2 separate regions of the Homo sapiens genome follow, and region 2 is linked to region 1. The links come from fine-mapping of genetic effects on gene expression. A gene starts in region 1. The other region holds a variant in brackets. All regions are shown on one strand. Distances are between the middles of the regions.

Region 1 (17,098 bases):
CACACACCGGGGCCTGTCGTGGGGTGGGGGAGGGGGGAGGAATAGCATTATGAGAACTACCTAATGTAAATGACGAGTTAATGGGTGCAGCAAATCAACATGGCACATGTACACCTATGTAACAAACCTGCATGTTGTGCACATGTACCCTAGAACTTAAAGTATAATTTAAAAAAAAGAAAATAAATAAAAAAAGAAAGAAGAAATTAAAAAAAAGAGAAGGGGCAGATCTGGGAGAATTTAAATAAATAAAACTGACAGGACTTAGTGATCAATTGGGAGCAAAGGGCAGACTAGGATGGCTCCCAAGTTTCACACTTAGGCTCTAGGTGAAGGGTGGAACCATTCTCCAAGACAGGGAACAAAGGCCAAGTTACAAGTGTGTTAAGTGTGCTGGTTACCACAGCAACAGCAGACTATTAAATACTGAGAATGTAAAAAATACATCAAAATTATTACATTTCTTTTCCCTTTATACATTTGTGGGGGGCACAGAACCTGTATATCCTCCCAGGGTCAACTTTTCTATGGTCCATAGTTATTAGATCGTCAAATGAACTTTGTTTCTACTCTTAACTTTTTAAGCTAATTTAAAGTGGGCTCCTTGGTTGCACCTTTGCTTTTTAGAGACTAAACACAGAATTACAAAGTTAAAGTCTGGGTATAGTGGCTCATGCCTGTAATCCCAGCACTTTGGGAGGCCGAGGTGGGAGGATCACTTGAGGTCAGGAGTTCAAGACGAGCCTGGCAAACATGGGAAAACCCTGTCTCCACTAAAAATACAAAAATAAGCTGGGCGTGGTGGTGTGTGCCTGTAATCACAACTACTTAGGAGGTTAAGGCACGAGAATCGTTTCAACCCAAGAGGCAGAGGTTGCAGTGAGCAGAGACTGTACTACAGCACTCCAGCCTGGGCGACAGGGCGAGACTTCATCTCAAAAAAACAAAAAAAAAAACAATGTTAAAGAGCTGCTACCCCAATGGCAAATAAATGAATTATTTCAGAAAAAAATTCAAACAGAATTAAATGTGGTACAACCAAACATTTTTGAAAGATGGCCAAAAACAATAATGCTACTAAGTCTATGACTTGAGAGTGGCTTCCTAATGTTTCAGCAAAATAGTAGTTTCTGTCAGTAACGTTAGTAGGTTATAGCACAGGCCAATCACCCATGAGTCAAATCCCAGTCACTTGCTGGCTTAAAATCAAGAAAAATCCTACTTTACATTTATAGTTATCAGAGCTACACTGCAGACACAGCCTCTGAAATGAGATTCGTATTTCAGTACTAGATAAACACCACTACCTCTGAGAAATGAAATCTCATCTATGTGGTAATAAAAGTAATGCTGGGCCGGGCATGGTGGCTCATGCCTGTAATCCCAGCACTTTAGGAGGCCAAGGTGGGCAGATCATCTGAGGTCAGGAGTTTGAGGCTGGCCTGGCCAACATGTTAAAACCCCGTCTCTACCAAAAATACAACAATTAGCCAGGCATAGTGGCGCCCGCCTGTAATCCCAGCTACTCGGGAGGCTGAGGCACGAGAATCGCTTGAAGCTTGAACCCAGGAGGCAGAAGCCGCAGTGAGCAGAAATCATCGTGCCACTGCATTCCAGTCTGGGTGCCAGAGTAAGGCCCTGTCTCAAAACAAAACAAAACAAAAGTAACGTTGGGCCTAAACATTCAAAAAATTGGAACAACAAAACAATTTCAAAGTTTCAAAACTATAAAATGTCATTAAATATTTTTAATATTGCTACGCCTGAAAGAATACAATCTAACAATTTACAAGCTAAGTTTTCAAACATACCAATTTTTTTTCCACAGTGCCAAGAGAAAATGCTTATTAGATGAATATATGAAATTTTAAACTTATTAATTACAGCCAAATGAATTTAGAAAGCAGAGTTACAGCTGTAAACGTATTTATAAAACTTTTTGACTTCTGATATCATTCTACTCTGAAAATTAGTCAAGTGTGGCAGTTAAATAATTCTCCATAAAAATCAAGCTCTCATTGCCAATTAGGAATTCAATTTTTTAAATATCACATAGATATTCAGTTGATTATCAACAGATTAAAAAATTAATCTTCTACAGATGTTAAAAGAGAAATTATGACATAGTCTCTTATTCACTTTCCAAGCTTTAGTTTCTTTTCAAGCTTCAGTTTGACCATCTGTAAAATGGAGATAAAAATGTCAACTTACACAGTTGCTGTCACGCTTAAATGAGAAATTGACTGGCAAAGCAGCGCCTCCAAAATGCTAACTTTACAGGGGAGCGAAGGAGAGAGCAGAGGAAGGGAAAGTGAAAGATAAGTTTTACTTCTAGTTTTACAAACTCCAGAATGAAACAACGTTTCTAGGTCCCCATCATTAAAAGTAATGAAACAGTTTAACAATACCCCAGGGCCTGCTCTTGCCTGTGATCATACCATGTTGGGAGGTGAGTAGGGGTAGGATTGCTTGAGCTAAGGAGATCCACAGCAGCCTGGGCAACACAGCCAGACCTAGCCACTAGTTAAAAAACAAACAAATGGGGGCCAGGCACAGTGGCTCATGCCTGTAATCCCAGCACTTTGGGAGGCAAAGGCGGGTGGATCACCTGAGGTCAGGAGTTCAAGACCAAACTGGCCAACGTCGTGAAACCCCATCTCTACTAAAAATACAAAAATTAGCCAGGCATGATGGTGGGCACCTGTAATCCAAGCTACTCGGGAGGCTGAGACAGGAGAATTGCTTGAACCCGGGAGGCGGAGGTTGCAGTGAGCCGAGATCACCCCACTGCACTCCAGCCTGGGTGACAGAGCGAGACTCTGTCTCAAAAACAACAACAAAAAACGAACAAACAGAAAACCAGCCGGGTGTGGTGGCACATGCCTGTAGTCCCAGCTTATTGGGAGGCTGAAGTGGGAGGATCGCTTAAGCCAGGGAGATGGAGACCAAGGCTGCAGTGAGCTGTGACTGCACTGCACTCCAGCCTGGTCAACAGAGTGAGATCCTGTCTCAAACAAAAAACAAAACAAACACAAGAACAACAAAAAATGCCCCGTTATCTACTTTTTTAAAGTCTGTGAACTAGTCAAAAAAACTTCAAATATTACAGCCCTTCGGCTAGTATCATACTAGCTGAAGTTGTATTTCTACACGTTGGTTAGGGGGATCTTTAAGAAGAAAACCGAAAATAGAGATTTGATCTAAAATAGAATGAATGAACTGAAGCCCCTAAACTAAATCACATTCAAGTAAAAGCAGGACTGGTGAGCAAAGGAATAAAGTGTGAAAGAAAATCAGTACTTGATCTCAGAAGCTAATAAAGAATGTATAATGCAAGCAGGGATTCTGAATCAATTGCTGAGTTTTCCAGGAAGACTTTGTAAAAACGTGGGTGGACAAAGTGTCAAAGCATAAAATACTTGCACTATCAATGGTTTCAAGAATCCACTCTGTAGACTAAGTCTTTAAATTACATTCTGGGCAAAATTGAGCATAAGCTGTTGCTCTTCTCATAAATTTGTTTTTGTGTGCACCAGTCTCATGAGTGAAAAATAAATGTACATGACTGTATTAGTAGTACTACACTGCAGTATTAATACTGCTAACACTATCCTAGTAGTATTACTACTAGTAGTATTAGTACTGCTAATACAGGCATTTACCTTTATTTTTCCCTGCTTGCATTAACTTGCTTTAACTTTAGAGAAAGTAGATAACTGGGCCACTGTTTTTTGGGTATGTTTGTCTGAGACAGGGTCTCACTATGTTGTCCAGGCTGGAGTGCTGCAATCACAGCCCACTGCAGCCTCAGTCTCCATTCTCCCTGGCTCAAGCTCACTTCATTAGAATCTTCTAACAAAAAGTAAAAATAGCTTGGGAGGTGTGGGGTGATACGAATTAAAGACCACCAAATATTGTTTCAGTCAGTACAAAAGGTCTCTGTGGGAATTTTCATTAGGGAGATAGGAGTGGGAAAAGGGACTGAAAAGGCAAGATTAAATGTAGGATAGGGACAGGGATTTAAAAAGGTAACTTTTGTTCCAAAATCAGCACAAGGAAAAAACCTTCAGATACAGTAAAAGCCAGAAATGAAGAGGCCCAGGCTTTTCCTGGGTATGAATCAAGTATGTTCTTCCAAGAAGGAAGGGAAGCCTGCTACTTACCTTCTAGTACCCACCACACCAAGAGAGATTGGTGGGGGGTTGGGGGTAGAAGACTAAATTAGATTTCCTTCACACCAGGCTTTACCAAAGCAGCCATGATTTAAGAACACTAACACCATAAGAAAAATCTCTCCTCACCTGCTTGCTGAAGCTGAAAATCCTGCAGTAAGTGAAAAAGTTCTTCATTCTGTAATTACAGATAAAAAGCTTAAAATCAGAAGCTTGGTTGACATCACACTTGAGCATTTTAGGTTAGATTTAAAATAAAATTCACCAGTGAATGGTAAAATATCAATTTTACCCAACCTGCCCTTTTGTAGAAGGGGCAACACATCGGTTAAGAGAGTCTCTGAAATGGGGAAGAAGGTTAATCTACCCTGAGAGAAATAGCACAGAGGAAAAAGCAGCTTGAAAGGCAGAAGGCAAACTTCAAAAATGTCACAATTTTGCCTAGGTTAGGTCTAAAGAGCAAAACAAACACATAAAGTACCATCATACTAAGGTATTTTTGTTCAGGGACCTATCAATGAGCACAGTGATGATTCACATGTCTATGAAAATGTGCTTTTTAAACTAGTCTGACTTGACTTATCAAGAATTCTTAACAAATCACTTTCAACAATAAAAACTGTTTTACAATTTCACCTGTATTTTTACCTTTAATAAGAGTTATTTAAGCACTGATTATTCTACTAGATGCTAAATTGCCTATTATATTTAATGCATGTGAAAAGTTGAATCTGAGCCCTAATGTTTTACTAAAACAACATAAAAGGTTACATTCCTTAATATAAAAGTAAAACTGAATTTAGGGAACAAACTCTTGGCAATAAAAACAGCCTTTCCTCTGCCTTCCCTCTTTTGCCTGGTAGTATTGATACTGCCACTGTGTCACCTCCTATGCTAAAAAAGTTTTCACTGAGTCACATTCAATTACAATTCCAGAAAAACAGCTCCATGTTGAGACATTACTCAACTTCTCAAGCAGTTTCTTTACTAAACCACTATATAATAAGACTAGCAGGAGGACAAACAATAAACTGCTCCTTTATTGACCTTCTCACTCCTCTCCTCTCAACCCAAAGAGGTTTTCGGGAAAATGGCTTATGGATGGCAGCAGTTTGCACTTGTTACTATTCACTATAACAGGTCCCTGGATTGTAACTGCAGAGACCATTTGAGTTACGGTCTTTTTCAAGCTATATGTGGGTCACATTTTATAAAACCATTATTTTATTCATGCATTTTTCCACAGGTTCTGAATCGGTCATTACGAATTAAAGAAATGAGGCAGTAGGCAAATAAGAAGTACATGTTATGATTCATTGATTCTTGTCTCAGAACTTCCTGTTAAGCTGATTATATGTCTGCATTTTTAAATGCTTAGATTTCTCTTATTAAACAAAGTACCTCGTAGGCAAAAGTGACACGGTCCTCATCATTTTCTTTAAATGACGCTCTATTTCATTTATTCCAACTACAGCTTCTCAAGTATGTTAACAGAAATCTCAGTAGTGTCAAAGGATCTAATAGAATTGTTTCCATCGAAAATGATGAATTCTGGAAGAGTACTACACCAAAACAATTATGGAATTATACATTTTAACTTATATTTTCATATTTTACTAATACTTCGTATATGTTTTTAATGTACCTTCAAACCACGTTAAAGGGTCTTATTTAAAAACATTTTCCAAGTAAGCATGGAAAAGCTAAAATAAGCCTTAAATAATTTAGTCTGGCTCTCTGATGGTATAGAGAAAATAACATGGGTCATTGCCCTACCTGTAAACCCACAGCTGGATAGTGACAGAAATGGGACTAGAATCTAGTTTTTCTTTCCACGACACCAAATCTCATTTGGCTCTTTCTTTCCAGTGGATTTCTCACCTCAATTCTTCAAATATCTTTTTGCTTTTAAGAGATGGCACAAACTAAGGAAAAACAGAGCATCTCTCCGAATTTTACCTTTAAAATAAGTAAAATCTAAAGAGTTGGAAGAATTTAATATTACACCAAAAGCCTTTTAATCCAGGAATGGCGCATACTAAGCAGTCATCAAATGGTGACTGTTATTAATATTATTCTTACCACAAGGAAAGCAGTGAATTTTTAAAAGTGCATATATTAGCATAGTAGGCTGAGGACCTATTTAACACATCTTTTTAAATTGCACTTAATTATCCTTAGTCGCCTTTGGACTGTAACTTTACAATATAATTTATGACCCGCCCACAATGACCTTGATTTTTTTTTCTCTTCTACTTTTAGAGACTGCTATATTGCAATATTTTAAAGTAATAATTGGTCATGTCCTCTCAGCCCTGGTGATACAGACATCCACCCTGACTCTCAAGGGATCTTAAAATGTGACCCACATATAGCTTGAAAAAGACCGTAACTTAAATGGACTCTGCAGTTACAATCCAGCGACCTGTTACAGTGAACAGTAACAAGTGCAAACTGCTGCCATCCATAAGCCATTTTCCGAAAACCTCTTTGGATCAAGAGGAGAGGAGTGAGAAGGTCAATAAAGGAGCAAACTGTTTGTCCTCTCTGCAGCTTCACACCAGAAGTCTGGAATGAATGAAAAGCTCTGGAATAGCACAGAGAAACCCGGGATCCCAGTGCAGGTCTCCAGACGGGGGTGCGGGGAGAGAAACTGTAGTTTACAAGCGAGAAACTCAGGATACAGATTTAAAATAAATAAATAAATAACTAGCCAACATCGTCTCGACTAGAGCAGGAACCCCCCACCCCCAGTTGAGGGAGGAGCACTTAGCAAGGGGCTGTAGCTCTAGCAGAAGACGCTCTGAAAAAGGCCAGGCCTGGGGCGGGGAGGCACCGAGAAACCCCCGGGTTCCAAACAGAGCAGGTGCAGGGGGCGTGCAGGAACAGGTGAGGGCGTCCCGGCGCGGAGGAGCGGCGGGCGGGCCCGGCAGAGCGGAGCGGGGGCCGGGGATGGGGGTGGGGGTGCGGATGGGGATGGGGGTGGGGGCGGCCGCTTCGCCCCCGCGCCTGCACACTCACCGTCGCCGCTGGCTCGCCTCTCGCTGCCGCCGCTCTCCCGACCGCCAGCAGCTCTTTCCCCTCCTCCTGCCGCGCCACCTCCGCCTCCTCCGGCGCCGCCGCCCAGGCCGGGCCGCTCTCCCCTTCCGCTTCCGGGAGCCTGAGGGCCTGGACCGGCCGAGTGGGTGTCCGCATGCCCGCGCGCCCGCGTGGGGAGGGACGACTGCCGCCGTCGCCGTCTCGCTTAGCTCCCGGGAGCCGCGATGGGAGCCGCTGAGGGCCGAAACTCCTGCAATCGCGCCGCAGCCCCAGAGCCGCGGACCCAGGCAGACCGCACTCTCCAGAGCGCTTGCACCTGGCGCGCCTGGGCGCCTCTGCCCCTCCCCAGCCCTACTTGAGCCGTCCTTCTCATTGTCCCCATATCCTCACTGCTCACCTCTCCCGAGAGACAGGATGGGGGCCTTAGCTTAAAAGATTGCATGTATCCTTTCTTCGGGGGATGTGGCCAGCAGGCCTCTCTCCCCGCAGGTGTTCTGGGATGTCCCATGGTACCTTGCTTCAAAGCGCGGTCTGCAGCATCAGCATCCTCTGGGAACTCACAATCTTTGAAATGCACAATTTCAGGCCTGCTGAATCAGTACATGCACTTCAGCAAGATCACCAGGTGACTCCTGGGGTGCACCGTAAAGATGGAAAAGCATTGCACTGTAGTGCATGGTCTCGTCCACTTCAGACCCTCTATTGGGTTGCCTCAGACATCCCAGGATATTTCCTGTTCCTGTCCTCAACCTAAATCCACACCCAAACAATCTTTTCTTATATTTTGGGAGACCTCCAAAAGTTTCCTGCTTTCCCATCCCTGCAAAAGCCGACAACTTTTGGACTCAGCGATGCAAGTAATCCACCTCTCAGTCTAACTTGGTATCTTCACCAAACACCAGAGATCTACTAACTTTCCCACCTCACTCCGGCTGAACAGTATTTGGGGAAGGTTAAACCGTTTGCAGTAATGTGGAGCTAGATCTTTCTGCCCACGTGCCACAGGAGGAGACAGTGTGTTGGTGGAAGAAATATTACCTGTTGTATAAAATCTGTATTCCTTATAAGATGTGCTTAAAAGCCCTCCACAGACACATCCCTACCTACCTCTCCAGTCTTAGCTCCAACTAATTTGGTTCATTTCCCCATTCTAGAATGCCCTGCTCTCTGATGATCTTAACCCTATCCAGATTTGAGAGTGGAAATCTTGCCAAACCAGAGTTCTCTCACCACTGCCCTTATATAGTGCACATTGTTGCCTGTTTGGGGCCTCATATTACCTTGTATTGCTAAGGATTTTTAAACATGTTGTGTCCTGGTTTCTGAACTAATTATAAACACCTTGTGACCTTAAAAACTTTGGTCAGTGGTTATCAAAGTGGGATCCCTAGACCAGCAGCATCGGTATCACCTGTCAACTTGTGAGAAATCCATATTCTTTTGCCCCATCCCAGATCTACTGTAGTAGAAACTGTTTAGGTGTAGCCCAGCAATCCGTGATGTAACAAGCCTTTTAGGTGATCCTAATACACACTCAAGTTTTAGAATTACTGACCTAGATTACTAGATATTCCCAAAAGAACCCAGTGGTAGGAATTGATTTACCCATAAGCAGATTTTATTGCCTTTCAGGTTAACAAATACACTCCCCGATATATGCATAGCGAGGTTGAAAGACTAGTCACGATTGCTTTTGATAGAATTACCTTTATTTTTCATAAATCATTTGATGTAGTAGGATTTTTGTAACTTTCTCTGTTTGAAAAGAAGGAGATATTTCATATAAACAATCACTTTGAAGGAAGAGGAAATGTGGAATCCTCCCACCGGAATCCAGCTACCTGATTGCGTATTCAATGTGAATCCCTTCTACCCAAATCCAGCTACCTGATTGCATATTAAATGTGGACTCCTCCCTACCCGAATCCAGCTACCAGAATTGCATATTAAATGTAAAATCCCCCCCCCACCCAAATCCAGCTACCCAATTGCATATTAAAAGTAGAATCCCCTCCACCTGAATCCAGCTACATGAATTGCATATTATTTTGCTTTCTCTTCAGATACCCCTGTGAGAGGGAATAATTTGTGACAAGTGATCTCAAAACTGCCAAAATAAGAATTAGTTGACAGGTCCATGATTGCACATGACAATTGGAAGTGCATGGATTTTTCAGTCCCTTTTTAAAATAAGTTAGCCTGTCTTTTATCAGCCAAATCAATTCCACAGAGAATTTTTAAGCAAGGGAATAGGAGAGAAGAGGCAGGAGAAACATCCTTAAAAACATGAACCTTTTTAGCATGGGCATTTCATGAGTATAATCAAAGGCCTGCCTATCCCTTACACTGAAGGTCAAGTCATCTGGTTCTATCATTCATGCTAATCATTGGTTATATTGTATTGCAACCCATACATTCAGGCACCTGGGTAACAATAAGGGGGTGAGGGAGATGTGGCATCAGGTAATCTTTTGAAAAGATTTTCTATTTACTGGGTATATTATGGAAAGACGATATAGATCGTACCATATTTTTTCCCTCCAGAATTCTAATCTACTTCATGGGGCCTGGGACAAACTGAAATGTGATTATTAATCAAACTAATATTTATCTGGAAGTAGAAAAAGTAGACAAGGACAAGTAGCATTGCTGCCACTGCCAACCAAGCTTCTAACAAAGGCACACTCAGGGCATTTATGAGGGTAAACACAGCCAACTCCTGTGCTTCTGTGCCGTGACTAGGGAGGATCTGGATTTTAGTGCAATTTCCAAAAATCAGTGCAGTCCAGAGTTTAATCAGTACTGGCTAATAGCCCTTGGCAGCTTTGGATGGATGGCATTCTCCACCTGCCCAGCTGGGTACCATGCCTTAAGCACCCATATTTGATGCACATTCATGATTTCTTGGTTGCCTATAGTTGTCTCTCCCATCTGTTTGAGTGGCAGAGTGCCTGTGCCATAACAATCTAATATTCTAAAAGTTGTTCTTAACCTCTTCTCTTTTGGGTTACACATCTCTTTGAGTATCTGATGAAAGTTGTGGACCCCAGCAAAGTACACATATACACAAATACACACACACACACACACACACACACATATATACACACACACATACAGGAACATATATATTTATATATATGAAATTTATATATATGAAGTTTCACAAGTTGCCCCACCTTCCTATGCCTCCAAAGGATCACAGCGAAGCCAGGAACTTCAGGCTAAGAAATATCCCTAGAATGTAGAGAGTAGGTAAAATAAACATTTTTCCCCAAATATCAAGGAAAACTGCAAAACAAACAAACAAAAACGACTGTGTGCTTAGGAGAAAAAAACAATAGCAGTGCTAAACAGAGTTACAAGGAAAGTTTTATGGAAGTGCTAATGAAGAAACTAGTAATTTCCATGGGATAGTTCAAGGGTGGCTTCTTGGAGAATGGTTCCTGTATCAGGCAAGTGAGAATAGGATTTTGATTGGGGGAAAGGAGGGAAAGAAATTTCAGGACAGAGGAAAGTGTAAGCAAAAACATAGAGAAATGAAAGTGCAAGAATCCCTCTGGTGTGGCTCAAAGGTAGGATACATGGAAAGAGAGAGGGCTGGAAATGTGGAACAGATTCCAAGCATGGTGAGCCTCAGAAACAATGCTATTCCCAATGAAGAGTCCTTAGGCTTTTGGCAAAAGGTGATGACCTGCTCCAAGCTGGAAAAGACTATTAGTGAGGGCAGTGGTATTATCAAAAGGCAGAGTAGTGGGGCATCTGGAAAGGTTCTAAGTATACTACATTGGAACCTGTTAGGCCACATTGCTTTACCTCAACTTTGGATTGTTTGATGGTGGCTCTAGAAGTTTCTATTCAATTAAATCATGATGAACCTGAGATTCTTACACTTGGTTAAGTGCTAGTAGGAAAACGCATCCTAGTGAATGTTCTGATGAGTTGAGTCTAGGATGCTGAAAGAGTTAAAATCTCTTTTGGATTAAAAGAGTGAGAATCAATTTGGACTGAAAAGAGAAAAGAAGCCCTGCCACTAATCAGACAAGGAGGACAGACACAGATAAAGCCAGCTGCAAAATTAGCAGGAAACACTTTCTGCCAAGGTCATGCAGCAGTTATAAAGTGCCATAATGATCCCCTCTTTAGGTGATTGCTGACTTCTCACCAATGATGCCCCTGACTGCTGGCTATTTTCATTTATTACTAGAGATACCCAATTGCTCAGCCATCATCCCCTCATGACAGCATCCAATCCTGGCTAAATCTCTCTTTTCCTAATCCCACCTCAAAACAACCAATCCAAAATGGATACCTGCTTCCCTTAGATGCTCCTCAAAATTCTTCAATGGAAGTTCAATTTACAAAAGATGCCTCCTTCCTCCCTCTTGCCTAGGAGTGACATCTCTCTATGCAAGGCAATAAATATGAGTTTGTCAGGCTACAGGTGTAATCCTCTAGGTTTTAACAACTCATTTGATGATGAAAGTTTTCCACTCCCCAGGACTCAAAGTCAAGAAAGAGTCTCCCTTTCCGTGTCAATAGCACAATAAAGTAGCTTCCATTACAAGTAATAAGGCTCATAAGTTCACACAGGGACTCTTCCAATATGGGAGGAAGCAAGGCTTTGACTAGGTCATCCTCATCCCTCATCTTTTGAAGAAATGTGGATTGATGTAGAAAGCAGAGGAAACAGGTGCTTTCTAAAAAAAAATTGTGAGTAGAGTCTATTCACAACAGCTTAATTTAAGTAAATAGAATTAACAGAGTCCCAAGATAATAGGGAAGTAAAATGGGTATAGAAAAGTGATTTAAAAAGTCCTTCCCTATCAAAATATAAATAACATATTAAAAGTAGGACAATTTTGATGGTGCCAACCTCTTTGCATGAAGGACGGAGATTGAGATTTTTGTTGAGAGAGTTCATTATAAAGAAAATAGCAAAAAGGAAACAAATGTCCTAGCAATAGATAAATAAAGTGGGCGTCTATGGCTGAACTAGGGAAGCAAGTTCAAGGTTGCAATATGGCTTCAGGGAATCTCTGCCAGCAGGAACAATTGAGAATGTAAGAGTGGATTTGGTCACCAAGAAATGGGATGCAGTAGGAGAAGAGAGCGAAGGGCAGAAACAACCACAGTACCTTTAAGGATCAGATAGAGAAAGAAATGATTCAAGAATCTCCTATGTTTCAACTACTTCCAAGTCAATATATCCAGCCCTGCACTCTATTGGGCTCCAGAGCCATAAATTCTAGAAGCCCCACTACACACTTGTTATGATGGCTCAAATGGGTGCGAAGTCTGTAGGACCAGTCATGAAAAATAAGAGAGTACTGCTGTTCTCACACATATCAGGTTAAGGTTCTGTGTCTCCCTTCCTCTAAGAGACTACTTCTTGTTTGTTTGCAAGGAAAATAAAAAATATCTACTAATCTCTTGGATAGTGCCCCTTTTATTTTTAATCTCTTTGCCCCTCAAATATATATATATATATGTCTTCATTAATAACTTAGCGAGAAAGTTGTCACTTTGTACCCCAGATAAAGCAAAGGAAGTTGTAAATGGTTTTATCATTGGCCCACAATTTCTGCCACAGGAAGACTAAATGATTAAAAAAAAAAAATCAGAAGTTTCTGCCTTGACTGGGAAGTTATCAGGGACATCTCTGCAGAGATTTGGCTATAAGAACAAAGGTCATACATCTATCCTTGTTCACTCCCATACATGAAGGGAGAAATGACAAATTGGGGGTCTAGCGCACTTTGCATGCATTCTTTAAAGGATCAGATATAGTTTTGTTTGTTTGTTTGTTTGTTTTTGAGATGGAGTCTCTGTTGCCCAGGCTGGAGTGCAGTGGCATGATCTCAGCTCACTGCAACCTCCATCTACCAGGTTCAAGTGATTCTCCTGCCTCAGCTTCCCGAGTAGCTGGGACTGCAGGCGTGCACCACCATGCCTGGCTAATTTTTGTATTTTCTGTAGAGACAGGGTTTCACCATGTTGGCCAGGCTGGTCTTGAACTCCTGACCTCAGGTGATCCACCTGCCTCGGCCTCCCAACATGCTGGGATTATAGGCATGAGCCACCATGCCCGGCCAGATACAGCTTTAGCTTTGTGGTCTAGTCTTTGTTGCAATTATTCAGTTCTGTCATTGGATTGCCAAGTCGCCATAGACAATATGTAAATGAATGGACATGGCCATGCAACAATAACATTTTATTTACAAAAACGAGCAGCAGCCCATATTTGGTCCCCATGAATCAGAGTTTGTGAATTCCTGCTTTGTGAATGATTGGAAACTCTTCGCCTCAGAATGGAGGAGGATATAGTGGAGGGAGATTGCCTGGTTTTGTTCCCTGATTCTAACACTACTAAGTATGTGTTACTTAATTACTGATGCCTTCGTTTCCTCATCTGTAAAAAATGGATAATAATAGTCATCATATTAGATTGTATGAAGATCAAAGGAATCAATATATGTCAAGCACTTAAACCTGAATCTGGCATGAGAAATGACTCAGTAACTATTATGACAATTACCTTCAGGTGGAAGGCTGAAGCCAGTGGTGGGTAACATCTAAATATGATTTGCACATTGCTTTGGATAAGAAATAAGAGTATACAAAGGCCTTTCACTGGCTTTTATCTCTTGCTGTCCCACAAATTTTTACCTCATTGGCATTTTAAAAATCAAAAGAGCCCTATTCCAAAGCAAAGAGAAAATCCCAGTTATGGCAGGTCCCAGAAGAATGTTTCCACAAACCTTCAGACTCAACGTGTTCAAAAACAAATCTTTCATTACCACCCCAGCTCTATTTCTCCCCCTAGTATTGCAATTTCAGAAACATCTGTTGTCTAAGCTTGAAAACTAAGAAGTTCTGTCTCCTCCCTCTCAATCCATTCACACCCAGTCACCAAACTCGATCAATTTCACTTCCACAAGATCCTTCGAAGCCATTCATTTCTTTGCATTCCTACAGCACTGAGTTCAGGTTGTCATTATTTTTCACCTGTACTACAGCAGTAGTCATCCTATCCCTAATCTTGCCCCCAACCCATCTGTTTTGCACAATATCACTCATGAACTCTTTCATAAAAGCAAACCTAACCACTCTCATCACTCTACCCATGTCTTTATTGTAAAATGAAAGCTTAGCGTGGCATAAAAGTTCCTTAACAATCTGACCTCTTCAGTCTCATCTCTGCTGCCATCTCTCAACTCCTTCCTCTGCTTTTCCTTCCAGTGTATGTTACAGTAGCACTAAACTGCTTGCTGGCCCATCATTTTCCCTGCCTTCTCAGCTGCTAACTCTGCACTCCTCTTTCAGATCTCTGGTAGTCTCTTACTGCTGAACAACCAGACTAACTTAGGCACCTTCTATTGGGCTTCCACAGGATTCTCTTGACTCATCTATCACAGATCTTACCATGCTGTAATGATCTGTTTGCTTATAAATATTCCCCAGAAGACAGTGAGCTCCAGGAAAGAACATATCCAGTCTTATTTGTGTTTGTCTTTCCGTTGCTTCCCACAACTCTATATCCATTATAGGTGTCCAGTAGTTTGGTTGAATTAATATACAATGAAACTAAAAAGTACAAAGGAAGAATGAGAGTGATTGGCAGGCCCTTGGAGGAGGGATCTATATCTGGTCTTTGATACCAAAGGGTTTGCAAAAGTCCAGGGAGGGGAGGAAATTGGTGGAGGACAGGCAGGGATCTGAAAGTCTGAAGAAAGGTTGAACATAAGGCATGAGAAAAGACCATTAGATTTAGTGAGCAGGATTTTCCTGGAAAACTCAAGAGTAGATTTTTAATAACTAGGTAATTAAACTGAGAAGAGAGATTATTTAGAAATAGAGACAGTAGGCATAGCTGGTTTTGAAATGAGTTAATGGATTGTCTCCTGTTTGTGTTTTAGGATGAGGAAGCATGAGTTATCTCTAAGATAAGATCATAAAAAGAGAAGAAAGACAAGTTAGAATTAAGAGTTAAAGTATGGGGCAAGAGCACCAGTAGAATCAAGAGTCCAGATAAGAGGATTCTCTTTGCTAGGAGAATAGCTACTTAATCTTCAAAGTCAGAAGCAAAAGAAGAGCCAGAGAGTACCCAAGTGGGAGATTTTGAAAGAGTGAAGAGGAAAGCTGAGAGCTTCAATCTAATGGCTACCCTCAGCTACATGTGGACACAGAATGGGAAGTGCTGAGCTCTCAGAAAGTCAAAGGAAAGAGGAGAGTGCTGAGCTCTGGGAAAGGAGATGAAAAGGCAGAAGGAGACAGTACTTCTTCACTTTGCTCAGGTGAAGAGAATGTTGAATACAGAAATGAATCTCCAAGTCCTTCAAGGAAAATCCTGGTACCAAAAGTAACAAAAGAAATACTTTCTGTTATATCTTATGGCTCCAAAACACTTTATAGAATTAACTTTTGTTGGTTTACAAATATACTATAATAATTCAACATACCTGCTTTGAGTTCATTGTACCTACACCTAATAAATGGGAAAATTTAGGCCACCTGGAATTTCACCTTTTGACACATCGTGGGAAGCCTCAGCCTTAGGTGATAAAAAACATGGTTCACATGGATGCAACAGCAAATAGAGATGCGTGAGAAAATCCCATAGGCAATACGGGCTCAAAGTGTGGTGATGAATGGCCTGAGGCAAGCAAACACTATCAAAGAATTCAGTGGAATCAATGGTAAAAGATTGACCAACTACTTAGAAGACACTGACCACATGTGGGATTTATTAACTACCTATGCTGCTTCAGGTAGCAAGACCTACCAAACTCACACATATCTACATATTCTTTGTCAAGGAGTAAGTTGCACTACAACTGCATTACAAAAACAAAAAAGTCACTTCCAAATTCATATCTGCTCTAGCAGGCAACCTTCTTACTAACTCCTCTGTCTTCTTTCCCACTTTTTGCTGTTTGGGAAGAACCTGGAGATAAAACTCTACAAAACCACATAGGCAAATAACGACATGGGGTCAACCTCAGGTTTAGAAAACCCTGCCCCCAGAAATCATCCCCAGGCCTGGATTTGTGAAAGCCAGCATTCTGAGAGACTCTTTCCTAAAACCATCTGATCACAGTTGTACTGTCATTTATTAATTACCACGGGAACCACCAACTGTCATCATGAAATCTTTTATAGGCATACTGTAAATATTAAAAGAGCATATTAAAGTTATACCATATGCAGCAGCAGCTGATGCTATTTTATGAAGACAATATTAGAGAGTATGCAGAATTATCACACTACAACGCCCATGATCTCTATTTCTTACAGCTGCCCTGGAGCATGACGCTGGGCCACAATTTTAACTCTTTAATCACAGAGGGGAGTAATTTGACTGATCATTTACACTGAAGCAAACTTTATCACTTAAACCAGGGTATATAGTTAATTACATGGATGCCTTTTTGTACATTCACCAGTCAACTTTTTATTATGAAAATGAGAGCAGGAGGATTTTCTTTGAAGTTTCCTAGGGAAGGAAAGAGTGTTTCCCCTGTCTTATAGTTGAAATCAGTGTGTAGGAGTGGCTCCTAGAAGCCACATGACCTATCTGCGTTAGCTTAGACTGTGTGTCAAGTGCAGTGGCCATTCTGGCAAGATAGCACATTTGTCTGATGAACTTTGTGAAGTCAACCCAAAGCTAACTTGAGGCTTATTTGGGTTGTCTCATAAGACCTGCTGCTTGCTCCCCCAAAATCTTCCCCATTGGTCTGTCACAATATCTGAAACTTGTCCCACTGTACTTGAGAGAGAGACAACTAGGTCTAGAATCTTCTGTTAAAATGCAAAATATAGATGATAGTTTGGAAATACTGTTAATTATCTTAGGAGTGATTATAGTATTCTAATTATATAGGAGG
Region 2 (12,549 bases), 30 kb before region 1:
ACGTGTTGCTTTCTAAGCTCAACACTAATAAATAACCATAAATGAATTTCATTAAAAGGAAATGTCAGACTAGGGCCCACTTTCTCAATCCCAATATAGTTCAAAATTCACCAATTTGGGAGTTTGCTTTTGTTGTTTTGTTTCCAATCTTTTGTTGTTTTGTTTCCAATCTTTTGTACTTAAAGGAACCACATGTTAATAATTGTATGCTACAACTGCTCTAATGTTAGTGGATATAAACATTTCTTTTTTTTTTTTTTTTTTTTTTTTTTGAGACGGAGTCTCGCTGTCGCCCAGGTTGGAGTGCAGTGGCGCAATCTCGGCTCACTGCAGGCTCCGCCCCCTGGGGTTCACGCCATTCTCCTGCCTCAGCCTCCCGAGTAGCTGGGACTACAGGCGCCCGCCACCTCGCCCGGCTAATTTTTTGTATTTTTAGTAGAGACGGGGTTTCACCGTGTTAGCCAGGATGGTCTCGATCTCCTGACCTCGTGATCCGCCCGCCTCGGCCTCCCAATATAAACATTTCTTACCAAATTACGCTTTTTTAGTGGAAGAAAATAGTAATAGTGGCAGAAAGAAAACATCAGTGCGTAGCAAGTAAGAAGTTCAGTGTAGAAACACAACTGCAGAAAGAGCCAATGATTATCTTCACCAACACAATTGTTAATCCTAAAGAAAAAAAATGAAAAAGAAACAATATTTTAAATTTCAAGAAGTTCACCTCAGGATCAATAAGACTAAATTAAAAACAAATAATATCACATATGCTTAACTTCATGGAGATATGCTATGGCCACTTGAAGGTAAAAACAAACTATACAGAGAAAACTATAAATATACCATCTTATATTTGTAAAGCACTTCACAAAGGAAGTCCACATATGTGATCCCCCTTCAACTCATAACAACTCAGCGAGACAGGAAGAGCAGACGGTAGTCTCCTGTGTCACTGATATGGAAACAGGGAACAAAGGAGCTAAGCCTCTGGCCAGAGGATGTAGAGTTAGAAGACATAGGGGCCAAGAGAGCAAGAACCCTGCTTCCCTGTATTTTGCTCTTCCTTTAGGGCATTCTAGCTGTGAAAAGCAATCTGAATGCCCTGAAGTAAACCAGCTGAAACATACCACTCTGACATAACTGCTAAGCATTCACTTTTCATTTTAAAAATCTACCCCTGGTTGCTGAAAATAAAAATGTATTCAAAACTATTTATAAATACACACAGCTATACTTCCACCAATACAACAGTGAACCCTAACTAGGAAAGAGGATTAATGTTACAATAAAAAATTTTCAAGGCTAATTTAAGCTGAATATTTTATTGTTCCAAATTTATTGTATCCAAATTGTCAAAGTATCCTAAAATTCCAGCAAAAAACCCTAGTTCAAGACTACAAATGACTTTGCACAAATGTTTTCATTTCAAAATAGTATTATACTGTCACTGAAAAAGAAACGATGTAACAGGTTTCGGTCCTAACTTAAATCGCTCTTTTTAACTTTGTCATTAAACCATTTTTTAAAGTCAAATACAGACCTGAACTGAAAAACCTTAGAGAGGCATTTCTTAAGATTTAAGAGTGCATGTTTTGTAAACAAGAAAATCTACTGTGCTTTGTTATTTGCAAGCAGGATTATAAGAGAAGTGTGCTTATGTATTAATATACACTCAAAAGTGCTCTTCAACAGCTGCCGATTGAAAGATGACTTATCATTGTTCCATCTTTCCTGTCCCCAGGAAGTTTGAGAAACAATGTCTATGATCACAGCATTCTTCTTAACCAGAACAGCTTTAAGAAGCACTAAGGTATTCAATCTATATGAGTTCTTTTTGTAACATCTGCACTACTTAGAAAGAATGATCAGGCCAGGCGCGGTGACTCAAGCCTGTAATCCCAGAACTTTGGGAGGCCGAGGGGAGCAGATCACCTGAGGTTGGGAGTTTGAGACCAGCCTGGCCAACATGGTGACAACCCGTCTCTGCTAAAAATACAAAAATTAGCCAAGCATGGTGGCATGCACTTGTAATCCCAGCTACTCGGGAGGCTGAGGCAGGAGAATCACTTGAGGCCAGGAGGCAGAGGTTGCAGTGAGGCAGAGGTTGAGATCATGCCACTGCACTCCAGCCTGGGCAACAGAGTAAGACTCCATCTCAAAAAAAAAAAAAAAAAAAAAAGAATGATCAGAGCCACAAATACAGAAAACCTTGAGGCAACGTGAGAATTGACCTCCAAACCTAAAAATGTCTTAGGCAGTTAAGTAGTGCAATTTCTGAAAACATCAAAAATTTTCCTTGCTTCCAATTTACACTGTACATTTCCCCTGCTCTCTGAACATTTCAGCAGTGCTCTATCAGGAAATTCAATGATAAAAATTCCTGAATCTCTTTAGGTCCCTTGTCTACTCTCCTTTCTGATCCTCCAATCCTTTGTACTTCCCCCTCACTGCTACCAACTTCTGAAAAGTTGACTAAAACTATGGAAGCAAGAGGCCCAGAAAGAGAAATCACCCCAACGTTAGAATTAAGGTTAAATAGCACCTTATTTGGTCACCAATAAGTGAGTCTTTCCTAGTTCTTTCTTACTACTGCATTCGTTTGAAAAAAAAAGCATCAATATCCACTTCCATCATGAACATTTGTATTTTAGTGAATAAGAAACTCTACAATAAGAAGCGCTTAAAAACTGAGCTTTTCTGTATGATCAGCAATTATCTGAATACATGTTTCACGTAGCTTTCTAAAAATCTATTACTATTGTGAGAGCAAACAGATCACTGAGCTTAAGAAAATTACTTGGGAATTAATCTTTATTCCCAAGTAATTCCCAAATAATTATTTACGTTTAAATTCAAGGCACAGTTTTGAATATCAACTATATGTCATACACTACTCTATCTTGTTGACAGATTTAGAAATTTTTAAAATTTTTATGTAGTAACAAAATGCTTTTATCGAAAATGCTCTTACTTTTTCCTATTTCAGGAAATTATCTTCTTTTTAAACAGTCTATGCAAAAAAACAAATTTCCACCAGAAGTTTGCTGAATAACTGTGCTATCAAAATAAGTTATCAAAAATAAAGAAAACTCTAAATAGACTAACATTAGAAAAAGCTAAACTCCACTTGCATCAATTTTAAATAAAAGCAATTATAAATTAAGAGGCTCATTATGTAAATTTGCATATATGCATGTATGTGTATACAAACATAAATACTACATATATGTATACAGATACATTTGTCAAATTCTACACTATACCAGTTTAAATATTTATACAGAGAGCCAATGCTAAGAAAACAGAATTAAATACAATATCTTGTTCACAGATTTTTGTGACAGCTTTAAAATGAGATACAATACAGAATTCACGCAGCATTTGTTTTCGAAGATTATATTTCTCAACTGAACATTTTCTTTAAATATTACAAGAGAGCCCCCTATTGACCAAAACTGTTAGCAGTTCTGCAGAATCAGCTAATTATCACTCACATACTTCCAACA[A/T]GTACATAATGGTAGTAGCTATATCCAATACATAATGCTTAAAAAGCTTTAAGGGGTAAGGAAGAGGTTATCAGGGTGTCTGAAATGTTATTAATTAAACAAATGAAAAGGGGATATAAACATTCGGATGCATATGGTTTATTACAATTAGAAATAGCTACCATTTAAGTACATCCTACTTGTCAGATATTGTAGTAAATGTTTTATATACATTGCCTCATTTAATACAACCACCTTAATCCTTTTGTATATCAGGCTGCAGTTAATTCTTACTTTTTTGGCTCAAATCTCTCCCTGTTAGAAAAGATAGGATTTCTGTGGAAAAATGACTTTGGGAGTTGACAGAACCATATAATCTAAATAAAGATATCCTTATTAAGATATTGTAAAACTATATAACTTTAACATAACTGTTGTTTAAAGCTGCCAAGTTGTAAGATTTACATTTTATTACCCACCCCTCTTTTCTTTGCTAGAAGTGAATTATTCTTACCATGGACAGTGATGATCCATTCTCCTCACACAGTGGCCGCAGCGGCTACAGTGATGGGAACGCTTTGGTCTCATCAAATTACACTTGTTACATAATTCCCAGAACTCCCTTTCTAAAGAAAAGAAATTAAAATCCATTTAATGAAGGCAAGTGGGTAATGCTGAAATTTACCAACAGTTGTTTAGAAGATTTTATAGGAAGCCTTCAACATAAAACTCTAAGAGATTTTTCTTCTAAGCCTTTGGTATAAATGTGTTTGCCATAAATGCTGCTGTTCTATTCTACATATGTCTTATTTTGTGTGTTTCTAATTTAAAAGACTAAAAAAATAAGACACTATTGTTATAGTCAAAGTAAGAGACAGAAAACAATGTATTTGGATTCTGGGTATACTGTGAGAATATAAGTAAAATCCAATGACAAAACCCTAGAGCCCAACCAAATTATTATACTAAAACAATTTTATTTAAACAAATTGATTTCTAGAAATTTCATTTTCTAAAGGCTCTAAAGAAGAAATAATGCTGACCCTGGTTTCAATTGATTAGTAAACTGAAATCAACCCTATAAACTCATCCGAAAAACAGATGGCATTTCCCTCCACATACACTTTCCCTAAATCATTTAATTTTAAAAAACATCAGTAGATTCATTTAAGAGTGTGTATGGGACAGGTTAGAGAAGGATGTCATATGGGTTTGGGAGGTATCAGAATAGTTTCAGTAGTGAAAAATGTTATAAGACAACTACTATTTTTAATGAAAATAAAGGAGTTCTTCATAAAACACTGAACTACCACCAACTAGCAATTTCCTCTAATCTGGAGTGAAACAGCACACGATTAAGCTCTGTGCCAAAAACACAAAGTTTGCATAAGAGAAAAGGCTTTTGTTTTCATTAAAAACTGTCCTAATTAGGTCCGCGAAAACTATGGAAGAGTCATCTTCCTAGAAAAGACAATTGCCTTATTATACAAAAATGTATCTTTTAAATATATTGGAATGGAATTTTTCTTTTACAAAATTCTTTTAATTTTCATCATCTGTGTTTATACTATCCCATAACCTCATTAAAAGTATGGACATAGTAAGATTAGCCTAACTCCTATATTCAGATTGAATTTTAGTACATGAAGAGTAGGACCCTAGCACATACTAGGTAGTCACTAAATGCTTGCTGACATATGAAAAGTCTAAAATCAAAAAATGAAAGATTCTAAATAAAAGTGAAAGATAATAGTAGACAATATTCAATTTTCTTTTTTTTTTCAGATTACAGATTTTTTTTTTTTTTTACCAATATTGATATTTTTATTTCTTTTTTTTCTCTTTTTTTTCTTCTTTTTTAAGATTCTCTGTTTGAATTCCATTACTTTAGTTGAATGGTCAGGAGCAACATCAACATGCTGGACTTTTATATAGTAAAGCGTTGGGAAAATACTCCCACTACAGACATCTCTGAAGAAACAAAGTATGAATAAAACCTACATCAAATTAATTGTTCCAATAATATGAAAGTTGAGAAATTATCTCTTATACTTGAAATCTTATTTTAAAAGAAAATACTTTTTCATCTCTTACAGTTATTTTAATGAAAATAAATCATGCAAGAGCAACAGTACTAAAGCTTAATTTACATAGTTAAACTAGTACTATTTACCTCTAAGTGAAATAAAAACTCATTTAATCTATAGCATATTACAATGTCACAAGCATATCATATTCCACTCCCCTACTTAGCTCAATGCTCCCAAACATCCCAGTGTTAAAACTTTGAATTCGGGGGGAGGAGCCAAGATGGCCGAATAGGAACAGCTCCGGTCTACAGCTCCCAGCGTGAGCGACGCAGAAGACGGGTGATTTCTGCATTTCCATCTGAGGTACCGGGTTCATCTCACTAGGGAGTGCCAGACAGTGGGCGCAGGCCAGCGGGTGCGCGCACCGTGCGCGAGCCGAAGCAGGGCGAGGCATTGCCTCACTCGGGAAGCGCAAGGGGTCAGGGAGTTCCCTTTCCGAGTCAAAGAAAGGGGTGACGGACGCACCTGGAAAATCGGGTCACTCCCACCCTAATACTGCGCTTTTCAGACCGGCTTAAGAAACGGCGCACCACGAGACTATATCCCACACCTGGCTCGGAGGGTCCTATGCCCACGGAGTCTCGCTGATTGCTAGCACAGCAGTCTGAGATCAAACTGCAAGGCGGCAGCCAGGCTGGGGGAGGGGCGCCCGCCATTGCCCAGGCTTGCTTAGGTAGACAAAGCAGCCGGGAAGCTCGAACTGGCTGGAGCCCACCACAGCTCAAGGAGGCCTGCCTGCCTCTGTAGGCTCCACCTCTGGGGGCAGGGCACAGACAAACAAAAAGACAGCAGTAACCTCCACAGACTTAAATGTCCCTGATAGCTTTGAAGAGAGCAGTGGTTCTCCCTGCACGCAGCTGGAGATCTGAGAACTGGCAGACTGCCTCCTCAAGTGGGTCCCTGACCCCCAAGCAGCCTAACTGGGAGGCACCCCCCAGCAGGGGCACACTGACATCTCACACAGCAGGGTATTCCAACAGACCTGCAGCTGAGGGTCCTGTCTGTTAGAAGGAAAACTAACAAACAGAAAGGACATCCACACCGAAAACCCATCTGTACATCACCATCATCAAAGACCAAAAGTAGATAAAATCACAAAGATGGGGAAAAAACAGAACAGAAAAACTGGAAACTCTAAAATGCAGAGCGTCTCTCCTCCTCCAAAGGAACGCAGTTCCTCACCAGCAACAGAACAAAGCTGGATGGAGAATGACTTTGACGAGCTGAGAGAAGAAGGCTTCAGACGATCAAATTACTCTGAGCTACGGAAGGACATTCAAACCAAAGGCAAAGAAGTTGAAAACTTTGAAAAAAATTTAGAAGAATGTATAACTAGAATAACCAATACAGAGAAATGCTTAAAGGAGCTGATGGAGCTGAAAACCAAGGCTCGAGAACTACGTGAAGAATGCAGAAGCCTCAGGAGCCGATGCGATCAACTGGAAGAAAGGGTATCAGCAATGGAAGATGAAATGAATGAAATGAAGCGAGAAGGGAAGTTTAGAGAAAAAAGAATAAAAAGAAATGAGCAAAGCCTCCAAGAAATATGGGATTATGTGAAAAGACCAAATCTACGTCTGATTGGTGTACCTGAAAGTGATGGGGAGAATGGAACCAAGTTGGAAAACACTCTGCAGGATATTATCCAGGAGAACTTCCCCAATCTAGCAAGGCAGGCCAACGTTCAGATTCAGGAAATACAGAGAACGCCACAAAGATACTCCCCAAGAAGAAAAACTCCAAGACACATAATTGTCAGATTCACCAAAGTTGAAATGAAGGAAAAAATGTTAAGGGCAGCCAGAGAGAAAGGTCGGGTTACCCTCAAAGGGAAGCCCATCAGACTAACAGCGGATCTCTCGGCAGAAACCCTACAAGCCAGAAGAGAGTGGGGGCCAATATTCAACATTCTTAAAGAAAAGAATTTTCAACCCAGAATTTCATATCCAGCCAAACTAAGCTTCATAAGTGAAGGAGAAATAAAATCCTTTACAGACAAGCAAATGCTGACCAATTTTGTCACCACCAGGCCTGCCCTAAAAGAGCTCCTGAAGGAAGCGCTAAACATGGAAAGGAACAACGGGTACCAGCCGCTGCAAAATCATGCCAAAATGTAAAGACCATCGAGACTAGGAAGAAACTGCATCAACTAACGAGCAAAATCACCAGCTATCATCATAATGACAGGATCAAATTCACACATAACAATATTAACTTTAAATATAAATGGACTAAATTCTCCAATTAAAAGACACAGACTGGCAAATTGGATAAAGAGTCAAGACCCATCACTGTGCTGTATTCAGGAAACCCATCTCACGTGCAGAGACACACATAGGCTCAAAATAAAAGGATGGAGGAAGATCTACCAAGCAAATGGAAAACAAAAAAAGGCAGGGGTTGCAATCCTAGTCTCTGATAAAACAGACTTTAAACCAACAAAGATCAAAAGAGACAAAGAAGGCCATTACATAATGGTAAAGGGATCAATTCAACAAGAAGAGCTAACTATCCTAAATATATATGCACCCAATACAGGAGCACCCAGATTCATAAATCAAGTCCTGAGTGACCTACAAAGAGACTTAGACTCCCACACATTAATAATGGGAGACTTTAACACCCCACTGTCAACATTAGACAGATCAACGAGACAGAAAGTCAACAAGGATACCCAGGAATTGAACTCAGCTCTGCACCAGGCAGACCTAATAGACATCTACAGAACTCTCCACCCCAAATCAACAGAATATACATTTTTTTCAGCACCACACCACACCTATTCCAAAATTGACCACATAGTAGGAAGTAAAGCTCTCCTCAGCAAATGTAAAAGAACAGAAATTATAACAAACTGTCTCTCAGACCACAGTGCAATCAAACTAGAACTCAGGATTAAGAATCCCACTCAAAGCCGCTCAACTACATGGAAACTGAACAACCTGCTCCTGAATGACTACTGGGTACATAACGAAATGAAGGCAGAAATAAAGATGTTCTTTGAAACCAACAAGAACAAAGACACAACATACCAGAATCTCTGGGACGCATTCAAAGCAGTGTGTAGAGGGAAATTTATAGCACTAAATGCCCACAAGAGAAAGCAGGAAAGATCCAAAATTGACACCCTAACATCACAATTAAAAGAACTAGAAAAGCAAGAGCAAACACATTCAAAAGCTAGCAGAAGGCAAGAAATAACTAAAATCAGAGCAGAACTGAAGGAAATAGAGACACAAAAAACCCTTCAAAAAATCAATGAATCCAGGAGCTGGTTTTTTGAAAGGATCAACAAAATTGATAGACCGCTAGCAAGACTAATAAAGAAAAAAAGAGAGAAGAATCAAATAGATGCAATAAAAAATGATAAAGGGGATATCACCACTGATCCCACAGAAATACCAACTACCATCAGAGAATACTACAAACACCTCTACTCAAATAAACTAGAAAATCTAGAAGAAATGGATAAATTCCTCGACACATACACTCTCCCAAGACTAAACCAGGAAGAAGTTGAATCTCTGAATAGACGAATAACAGGAGCTGAAATTGTGGCAATAATCAATAGTTTACCAACCAAAAAGAGTCCAGGACCAGATGGATTCACAGCCAAATTCTACCAGAGGTACAAGGAGGAACTGATACCCTTCCTTCTGAAACTATTCCAATCAATAGAAAAAGAGGGAATCCTCCCTAACTCATTTTATGAGGCCAGCATCATTCTGATACCAAAGCCGGGCAGAGACACAACCAAAAAAGAGAATTTTAGACCAATATCCTTGATGAACATTGATGCAAAAATCCTCAATAAAATACTGGCAAACCGAATCCAGCAGCACATCAAAAAGCTTATCCACCATGATCAAGTGGGCTTCATCCCTGGGATGCAAGGCTGGTTCAATATATGCAAATCAATAAATGTAATCCAGCATATAAACAGAACCAAAGACAAAAACCACATGATTATCTCAATAGATGCAGAAAAGGCCTTTGACAAAATTCAACAACCCTTCATGCTAAAAACTCTCAATAAATTAGGTATTGATGGGACGTATTTCAAAATAATAAGAGCTATCTATGACAAACCCACAGCCAATATCATACTGAATGGGCAAAAACTGGAAGCATTCCCTTTGAAAACTGGCACAAGACAGGGATGCCCTCTCTCACCACTCCTATTCAACATAGTGTTGGAAGTTCTGGCCAGGGCAATTAGGCAGGAGAAGGAAATAAAGGGTATTCAATTAGGAAAAGAGGAAGTCAAATTGTCCCTCTTTGCAGATGACATGATTGTTTATCTAGAAAACCCCACTGTCTCAGCCCAAAATCTCCTTAAGCTGATAAGCAACTTCAGCAAAGTCTCAGGATACAAAATCAATGTACAAAAATCACAAGCATTCTTATACATCAACAACAGACAAACAGAGAGCCAAATCATGAGTGAACTCCCATTCACAATTGCCTCAAAGAGAATAAAATACCTAGGAATCCAACTTACAAGGGATGTGAAGGACCTCTTCAAGGAGAACTACAAACCACTGCTCAAGGAAATAAAAGAGGATACAAACAAATGGAAGAACATTCCATGCTCATGGGTAGGAAGAATCAATATCGTGAAAATGGCCATACTGCCCAAGGTAATTTACAGATTCAATGCCATCCCCATCAAGCTACCAATGACTTTCTTCACAGAATTGGAAAGAACTACTTTAAAGTTCATATGGAACCAAAAAAGAGCCCGCATTGCCAAGTCAATCCTAAGCCAAAAGAACAAAGCTGGAGGAATCACACGACCTGACTTCAAACTATACAACAAGGCTACAGTAACCAAAACAGCATGGTACTGGTACCAAAACAGAGATATAGACCAATGGAACAGAACAGAGCCCTCAGAAATAATGCCGCATAACTACAACTATCTGATCTTTGACAAACCTGAGAAAAACAAGCAATGGGGAAAGGATTCCCTATTTAATAAATGGTGCTGGGAAAACTGGCTAGCCATATGTAGGAAGCTGAAACTGGATCCCTTCCTTACACCTTATACAAAAATCAATTCAAGATGGATTAAAGATTTAAATGTTAGACCTAAAACCATAAAAACCCTAGAAGAAAACCTAGGCATTACCATTCAGGACATAGGCATGGGCAAGGACTTCATGTCCAAAACACCAAAAGCAATGGCAACAAAAGACAAAATTGACAAATGGGATCTAATTAAACTAAAGAGCTTCTGCACAGCAAAAGAAACTACCATCAGAGTGAACAGGCAACCTACAAAATGGGAGACAATTTTCGCAACCTACTCATCTGACAAAGGGCTAATATCCAGAATCTACAATGAACTCAAACAAATTTACAAGAAAAAAACAAACAACCCCATCAAAAAGTGGGCGAAGGACATGAACAGACACTTCTCAAAAGAAGACATTTATGCAGCCAAAAGACACATGAAAAAATGCTCATCATCACTGGCCATCAGAGAAATGCAAATCAAAACCACTATGAGATACCATCTCACACCAGTTAGAATGGCGATCATTAAAAAGTCAGGAAACAACAGGTGCTGGAGAGGATGTGGAGAAATAGGAACACTTTTACACTGTTGGTGGGACTGTAAACTAGTTCAACCATTGTGGAAGTCAGTGTGGCGATTCCTCAGGGATCTAGAACTAGAAATACCATTTGACCCAGCCATCCCATTACTGGGTATATACCCAAAATGACTATAAATCATGCTGCTATAAAGACACATGCACACGTATGTTTATTGCAGCATTATTCACAATAGCAAAGACTTGGAACCAACCCAAATGTCCAACAATGATAGACTGGATTAAGAAAATGTGGCACATATACACCATGGAATACTATGCAGCCATAAAAAATGATGAGTTCATGTCCTTTGTAGGGACGTGGATGAAATTGGAAATCATCATTCTCAGTAAACTATCGCAAGAACAAAAAACCAAACACTCCATATTCTCACTCATAGGTGGGAATTGAACAATGAGATCACATGGACACAGGAAGGGGAATATCACACTCTAGGGACTGTGGTGGGGTGGGGGGAGGGGGGAGGGATAGCATTGGGAGATATACCTAATGCTAGATGACGAGTTAGTGGGTGCAGTGCACCAGCATGGCACATGTATACATATGTAACTAACCTGCACAATGTGCACATGTACCCTAAAACTTAAAGTATAATAAAAAAACAAATAAACAAAAAAAAACAAAACAAACAAACAAAAAAACTTTGAATTCACACATTGCAAGGAATATAGACAGGAAGGAGGCGCTCCACAACGAGCCAATTTTCACTAAAAGGCGATATAAAAATTTGTTTTTATCAGCCACTTAAAACATAAACACGGTGTATTCATTATTGGTAATTTCTGAGAAATCAGCATATAATATCCTAGAGAATAAATTCTTCATTTTATATCTAAAATGTATTCTCAGAAGAGAGCACTTGGCAATAGTTAGAGAAAGCCTACAATTTTGTAATCTAGACCACAGATACAAACTACAGTCTGCAGGCAAATCCAGTCTACCACCTGTTTCTGTATGACCTATGAGCTAAGAATAATTTTTACAATTTTAAATTATTGAAAATAACAATTTGTGACATGTAAAATCATAAAATTCAAATTTCTGGGTCCATAAACAAAGTTTGATGTACCCATCATTTACATATTGTCTATGGCTGCTTTTGTGTTTCAGTGGCAGAGCTGAGGAGTTGTAATAGAGACTGTATGGCCCATAAAGCTGAAAATATTTACTACGGGCCTTTATAGTAAAGAAGAATTTATTTGCTAATCTATGGTCTGGACCATAAATTGATTTAAAGAAAGAACTTGAGTCATTCCTTTGATAACATGAAGATATTACATAAGTATCTAAAATGAGAAATACCTGTAAAAACTCACAGTTTCACATATCTATATGAACACATACATATCTATATGTTT

Evidence for each region. PIP is the estimated chance that this variant, and not a neighbour inherited with it, causes the effect.
Region 2: its variant is fine-mapped to the expression of ZDHHC21 in cerebellum (GTEx, PIP above 0.99).

The regions. Positions count from the first base shown.
Region 1 is chr9:14,686,036-14,703,133 of GRCh38, forward strand. ZDHHC21 (zDHHC palmitoyltransferase 21) reads right to left here and starts at 7,397. Exons shown (of 10, transcript NM_178566.6): 1 at 7,194-7,397; 2 at 4,302-4,350. RefSeq lists silencers at 7,039-7,178, 7,259-7,328 and an enhancer at 7,402-7,902.
Region 2 is chr9:14,658,219-14,670,767 of GRCh38, forward strand. ZDHHC21 (zDHHC palmitoyltransferase 21) reads right to left here. Exons shown (of 10, transcript NM_178566.6): 6 at 3,997-4,108; 7 at 531-669. Among named protein-coding and RNA genes, the nearest start is that of ZDHHC21, 29 kb to the right of the region's middle. The variant A/T (reference allele first, on the strand shown) is at 3,504.